2 linked regions of the Homo sapiens genome follow. The protein of the gene in region 1 purifies or fractionates together with the protein of each later gene. This does not show direct contact. Each region holds a gene or a part of one and is shown on either strand. Other genes may lie near its edges.

Evidence for each region. Proteins that work in one complex are often made in the same cells at the same time.
Region 2: the proteins of OLFM1 (region 1) and BMAL2 purify together in Homo sapiens (affinity purification with mass spectrometry; 2 studies listed by BioGRID and IntAct, with this or other methods). This does not show direct contact.

Annotation. Positions count from the first base shown.
Region 1 is NC_000009.12:135,101,168-135,104,667, reverse strand, and holds part of OLFM1 (noelin isoform 4 precursor), read right to left. Parts: intron 1-3,500. UniProt on the Homo sapiens protein: Contributes to the regulation of axonal growth in the embryonic and adult central nervous system by inhibiting interactions between RTN4R and LINGO1. Inhibits RTN4R-mediated axon growth cone collapse.
Region 2 is NC_000012.12:27,335,836-27,339,335, reverse strand, and holds part of BMAL2 (basic helix-loop-helix ARNT-like protein 2), read right to left. Parts: intron 1-3,500. UniProt on the Homo sapiens protein: Transcriptional activator which forms a core component of the circadian clock.

The DNA of each region.
Region 1 (3,500 bases):
AGAGGCTGGTGTCCCCTAAGACAGTGCCTTGGCCCTGTGAACATCCCGTGAGGACTTTCCACGCCGTGGTTCTGTTAGTTGTCCGGAAGGAGAAGCCTAGAGGAGTGGCGGCCCCATGCTGGGTTTCCATCCAGCAGCGCACACGGGCTCTGGCCACTTCAGCCTCCTCAGTCAACACGCCGGGCCTTCCGTGACGCTGGCCCACACTAACGCCCGGAACCACACCCGCAGCAGACTCATCCCGGTCGCATGACCTACCGGAAGGAGACCAGGTGTCTGCCCTCCACCTTGCAGGCAGCCGGCAGAGGCCAGAGGCAGCAAGTCAGTGCTGGGCTCCTCTCCGCCGCCTGGCCAGAGCCCCGCCCTGCTGGTTCACGCAGCTTTGCTCCAGCTGTCCCTCCACCTGGTGTGCCGGCCCCAGCCCCACCTTCCCACCCACCTTCACTGGCTTGCCCCAAACTGACACCTCTGCCCTAAAGACGTGCCCTTCCTTCACTTTGCCTGGTCTGCCTGTCCTCACTGCAGCCGGAGCCAGCTTCCCACCGTACATCTCATGGGGCTGCCAAGGAATGTCTGGGTCTTACTGCCCCAGGGAAGAAGCTTCCTGCACTCACCCTGTTTCCTCCAAAACTCAGCCTGGGGATTTGTATGGAATGAATTAATGAATGAACGAATGACTCATTGCTCAGAAAAGCCTCCCAAGTCGAAGGCTTCACTCTCTGTCTCAGTGAAGGAGGGAGGGTGACCCTCTTCCCTGGGGGCTGCTGTGTACTCCCTCTCCTTCTCTATAGATGGGCTAATAACAACAGTGCCCCCTCGGAAGGCTGCTGTGAGAATTAGGGCAGGGACCACCAGAGAGCTTTTGGGACAGCACCTGCCACAGAGTCAGAGCTCCACAGAGGTCAGGAGGCATCACTGGGGATTCAGCCTGAGGATGTGCAGAAAAGGCGAGCCCAAGTGGACGTGGTCTTCACCCCTCCCACTTCATCCCGCCCACCCTGGACCTTGCAGTTCTGCTCTCCAGAGGGCGGCTCTGCCCCAGGCCCACCCTGCCGTGGGCCAAGGGCTCCCTCTTCCCTCCTGCATGGGCCCCACTGGCTCAGAGCTGAGCATCACCCTCTCCAGCTCCCTCTTTTAAATGCAAAAGTGACCCCTTGAAATGAGCCTTAAAATCCTGGCTTAGCAAGGGCAGGGAAGGGTGAGGCTGGCTCTGCACCCTGATCTTCCAACTGCTGGCTGTAGGCACAGCTCCCAGGGCCCTTGGGGCTGGAGGCCACCTGCCCTCCTTGAGTCAGGGAGTTATTTTTGGTTCTCCATCCAGACTGCTTCTGCCAAGACCTCAGGAACTGACAGGATCCAAAAAAGCCCATGGCAGAGCCTCAGTGGAATCTTGGCACATGCAGTTCAGGAAAGCGTCCCTCTCCAGTCACGAGCACTCAGGATGCACACACAAGGAGGGAAGAGGAGGGGAGAGGCAGGAGAGGGCTGGCCGGGCTTCCTGCACTGTTGGAGGCTCAGGAAATGGCCCAAACGGGCTCTCTCTCCTAGGAAGGCCTGGGCTTGGAGGGCCAGCATGCTCAGCTGGAGGGGCAGAGGCCCCCCGACGGCCCCAGACGGGCTCAGAGGGCAGAGCGCTGTGCAAGGCCGGGAGCCTGGACAAGCTGATGCCCCTGCGGATGAGACAATCTGCCTCTTGCTATTCACAAGAGGAGGCCACTTCTACGCAGCAGCATGGACGATCTCATAGAACAGGCCCGGGGAGATGCCCACTGAGGACCTCAGGCCAGAGACAGAGGGGTCTCTGGGCAACAAAGGAGACAGACCAGGAGGGCTGAGTGCCCTGAAGCAGGCAGATGGGGTTCCTGTCCTGCTGCCTGTCCTCTGAGCCTATCTCCCTTGGTCACAGCTTTTACCTCCTGCAATCCGGGAAGACTTAAGCTGGAAGAAGTCTGCAAAGCTGGGAACTTGGACAAACCGATGTCCAAAATGCAGATGAAAGAAGCTGAGAACCATGCTGCATCCCCGCCAGGCCTCGAGATCAGACCCAGGGCCTGGGCTGGGGCGGCCACTGAGGAAAGGGTCACGGCAGACCCTCTTCCTCGCATGGCAGGAAGGGCGGGCCTCCAGGAGACTCTCACCGCCTGTCATCTGGAGAACTTCCTGGGAGAAGCCCTGGCCGCCCGGGCCCCACTCAGTCAGTGCTTCTGAGCGGCTTTTTAGATTTTGGTTTATTTCCTCCCCTGTCACTCTAGTGGGTTTTCCTTCAGAATCCACTGGCAAGGGCTTAACTCTCTATCCTTGAACGCACCATGTGTGCTGGTGACAGTGGCTCACTGTCTAGCTCCACTCAGGGCCGGGGGCAGGAGAAGACAGACCCTCTCTCTGCCTGGCTGACCCTTTCTCACATCTCAGGGTCAGGGAACAAGAGGGAGGCTTCAGGTTTGTCTCCCCCAGGACAGAGTGTAGGGCATGGTGCCAGAGCCAAGCACTATGCCCTGCCATCCCGAGCTGGGACGGGGGCCTGCAACTGGACTTGCATCAACCTAGATACCCAGGCAGGCCCAGCTCCCAGCGGCTGACAGGGGACTCTGAAGCTGGAGCCAGCGGGCTTTGTTAAGACGCGTTCCAGTGAAACAAAAAGACCCGACTGACCCTGAAGCCCAGGCTCTGTCTGTGCTTATGGGTGTCTGGGGGCTTCCCAGGCTTTGGGAAAAAAAAGAAACTAAGGAAGCCTTTAGCACCAGAGTGCCAGGATGGTATATCTGGGAGGAGCCCTTCAAATCAGCTGGCCCCCTCACCCCTCATTTATAGAGAGGACCACGGAGGCCTGAAGCTGACAGGCACATGCCACGCCCCGGGAGCTCCATGGGTAGAGCAGCATCGTGCACTGACCCTCACGCTTCTGGCTTCGCTCAGCTTTGCTGCTGGGGCATCTGACTCTGCAGGCTCCCCTGGAGAGAGGGCCCCACGCCCAGCTCAGGGGACGAGGCCAGGGGCACGGGGCAGCACTGACTCTCCCCTTGCCTGGCAACAAGACTTGCTCCAGGGGAACCGGCAAACTGCCTCCTTTCCAGAGGATGCCCGAGAGGAGAGGTTCAGATTCAAGTTTCTGGCTGGGCCATTAGGAAAATCATATAATGCCATCAAAAGAGGGATCTTCAGAATTGGAAACTGAAAACTGATGGAGCCCTGGTCCTTGTTTTCTCTGTTTCTGAGTATGTTCTGGGCTTGTCAGCAACAGTGACTTGAAGAAGGTAGCAGCAAGGAGAGAACTATCAGGAAGACTTTGGGAGAGCCTCTCCTCCAGGCTTACTGCAGGAAGGGAACCCGGACCCTGTTCACTAGACCATGGAACCTGCAGTCACACTTCACACCAGCAGGAACAGCAGGCACACCAAGAAACTGCGGGGTCCGGGACAGGGGAGGAAACTGCCCACTACTGGAGGCCACGTCTCACAGAAGCCCTCACCACCCAGGACGGCCGGCAGCGGGTGCCGGCT
Region 2 (3,500 bases), on another chromosome or scaffold:
GGTAAATATACACCATGGAATATTATGTAGCCATAAAAAGAATGAGATCATGTCCTCTGCAGGAACATCAATGGAACTGGAGGCCATTATCCTTAGCAAACTAACACAGGACCAGAAAACCAAATACCACATGTTCTCACTTATAAGTGGGAGCTAAATGATGAGAACACATGGACATACAGAGGGAACCAACACACACTGAGGCCTATTGGAAGGTGGAAGGTTGGAGAGGGGAGAGGATCAGAAAAAATAACTAATGGGTACTAGGCTTAATACTTGGATGATGAAATAACCTGTACAACAAACCCCTGTGACACGAGTTTACCCATATAACAAACCTGCACATATACCCTTGAACTTAAAATAAAAGTTAAAAAAAAGATAGTAGTAGTTCCCTTTTCAGGAAAGAAAAGATGAAAGAGAGAAGGGGCCCAGATAACTTGGAGTGAAGACTAAGACCTAAGAGACAACCATCTGGCAGGAACCAGGAATCAGTGAGCTTTCCGGCTTTCTTACTGATCAGAAATATGCCATAATTTGCCTTTCAAGGTGACTTAAAAGTTCTGTTGCCTGCCAGGAACCAAAAAGAAGATGCATGTATCTTTCCTTTTGTAGAGCAGGAAACTCACCTATGTGTAAGACAGGCTGCCTGTGTTCACTGTCCATGCCTCATCACAGACCTTGGAGGGGAAGCCCAATAGAAAATGATGAAACTTTTCAGTAGGCCAGTTCTTTCCTTTTCAGTTTTCCTATCCAAAGCCAAAGGATACTAACATCAATTCTTCTGTGCATGTCACTGGTGATTTTCCATTTCCATGCCTACTCTGTTCCCTGGAAGACCCCCTCCCAAACCTTTTTTTTTTTTGGCTGCCTCTCCAAGAGTTGTCTTTCCATCGATACTAAAATTAACCCCTTCTCTGAAAGCCTTCTGTGGTCCCTCTTTCATGAACTAGATATAATTTCTCCCAACTGTGGGGGAGGAGACTAACTCCTAACAGTTAGCCCATATATTGTACCATGTGCCTACCTTATATTACAAATATTTTGGCTGCATTTCTCACCCAGCCTAATAGATTTTGTAAGCTCTTTAACCCCTTCTCCTGCTTTATCCACTTCTGCTTCTCTGTTTGCCTAGTAAATAGTGCGTATTTAATGGGTCCTTTAAGAATGAACTAACCCTTTCCACACCTTAAGCAAACTATTCTTCATTCAAAATCTGCAAGCCTTTATTAAGCACTTAATAGGTGCAAGAAATTGGAGATTATAAAGCTGAGTAAGAACCAATTCTGGCCTCCTGGCAATGTGCAACTTAAGGGTGGAGCTAAGAAACCAAATAACTTGTGGCAGACAGGCACAAGTGTTATCATAGGCACACAAAAAAACTACAGTGTGAAAATAGGAGGGGAGAATAATTTCAATTTGGGTGACGAGGAGATTCTGGGAAGGTTGCATGAGGAAAAGGGGAAAATCATTTGTTGAAGGTCAGAGTTCATTAAACAGTTTGTAATCATTATCTCATTTAATTCCCAAAACAACCTTCCAAGTTAGGTATTTTTACCCCTATTCTACAGATAAGGAAATTGGGGCTCAGAGAAGTTTTAAAATTTGACCAAGTTTACAAAGCTGACAAGTAATGAAACCAGAAATCACAAGCCCAGTGGCCTAGTTCCAAAGCTTATATTGATTTTCCCACACCAGTTCTCCTCCTCCACACATACAAAAAAAGTGACATCTGCGCTCAGCCTTCAAGCTTGATTGGTTAAGATTCTCCAGACCCATCTAGAGGGAGGGCAGGGGTATTCCAGGAACAGCCAACAGCCTGAGGAAAGGCCTGGAGGTGGGAAAGTGTACATTATGTTGGGGAAAGGCAGGTTCCTTCACATAATTGAGTATAGGACATATCACAGGGGCAAAGGTGGAGGCACTTTGGTCAAGAAGGGTAGTAGATGATTCTCTACTTTCCCTGTGATATGCTTGGAAAATATGATAAAGTATATTTCTAATCTACTTAAAAATGTATGAAATGTTGTAAGTAAAACACTTTGAATGTCTTGGAAGTTATTGTTTTATCACAATAGTCTTAACCTTCAATTCTAAATATCCTTTAATGCAAAGCATAGAGTGGAAGAATGATTCTCTTTACATTTCCTTTTCCTTTAGACTTCTTTGTTTTTAATCTCGCTGTAATGGTACCATCTAGAGATTTAAACCATAAGATTAAAGACTAGAGAAATGAAATACAAATAATTTAGCTACATAAATGTCAAATTTCCTATCATGCCAACCATTTAAGTATTTTCAGGTGAGAATGTTAACACTGTATAACTGAACTGATTTTAAGAAGTTTTAAGGAAGTTTAAAATACTTTTTTTTTTTTTTTTTTTTTTTGAGACAGTCTCGCTCTGTCACCCAGGCTGGAGTGCAGTGGAATGATCTCGACTCACTACAACCTCTGCCTCCCAGGTTCAAGTGATTCTCCCACCTCAGCCTCCTGAGCTGGGATTACAGGCACGCACCACCAACGCCGGACTAATTTTTGTATTTTTTAGTAGAGACAGGGTTTCACCATGTTGGCCAGGCTGGTTTCAAACTCCTGACCTCAGGTGATCCACCTGCCATAGCCTCCCAAAGTGCTGGGATTACAGGCGTGAGCCACCGCGCCCAGCCAGGTTTAAAAATATTTTAAGTTAAAAAATTGGGTGGGTAAATGGGATATTATAGCCTAGTGTGATACAATGTAAACAGTATGTGTCAGGGACCAGTAAGTGTGACAGCACCTGAGTAAGAGAAGGAAACAGGGTGCGGCAGGGCATACATAGCTAAGTATTGCATAAATTATCAGTAAATATCTAGAAATACTACACGCTACTACAGAGAACATATCTCACCTGCAGTCCTAGCTCCAATAAGGGCTTACACTGAAGGCTCTTAGTTCCCACTGGCTCCTGCCACTGGGAAGGGGTGAGGCACTGGGCAAGGCAGGGGCTACAGAGGGCTGGGATGCTGAGAACCAGGGGAGCCACTACAGGTAGTAACCTTGCAAAAACCAGGGCAGGAAATCACTGTCTCACAGAACAGGCGGATGTCTCAGGTGCCCTTGCCTCCTGTAGGGCACATGGCACACTCTGAGGTCCCTGAAAATGCTTATGACCATGATGATGCTGACTAATGACCCAGACCCCAAGCACCCGAGTAACTCAGTTGTCAATGCAGAGAAGTGGAGGTCTTCAATTAAATGAGACAACTGAAAACTAGGGCTACCAGAATGAATTGTTATTTGCTCATTTATGATTTCCTGAACATGACACAAATGGAGATTTCAAAAGGATGCTACCTCAATGTTCACAGCACAGAACATCATGCTTTTTAGAACTAGGGAGTCATTTCACAAGGACAAAGTAAACTGAAATCACTGTATTCTCCTACTGATATTTTGGCTTTCCCTATATATTTTAAACGTTAGTTTTTGTTTTTCCTGGAGTCAAACTTTGATGGAGTGG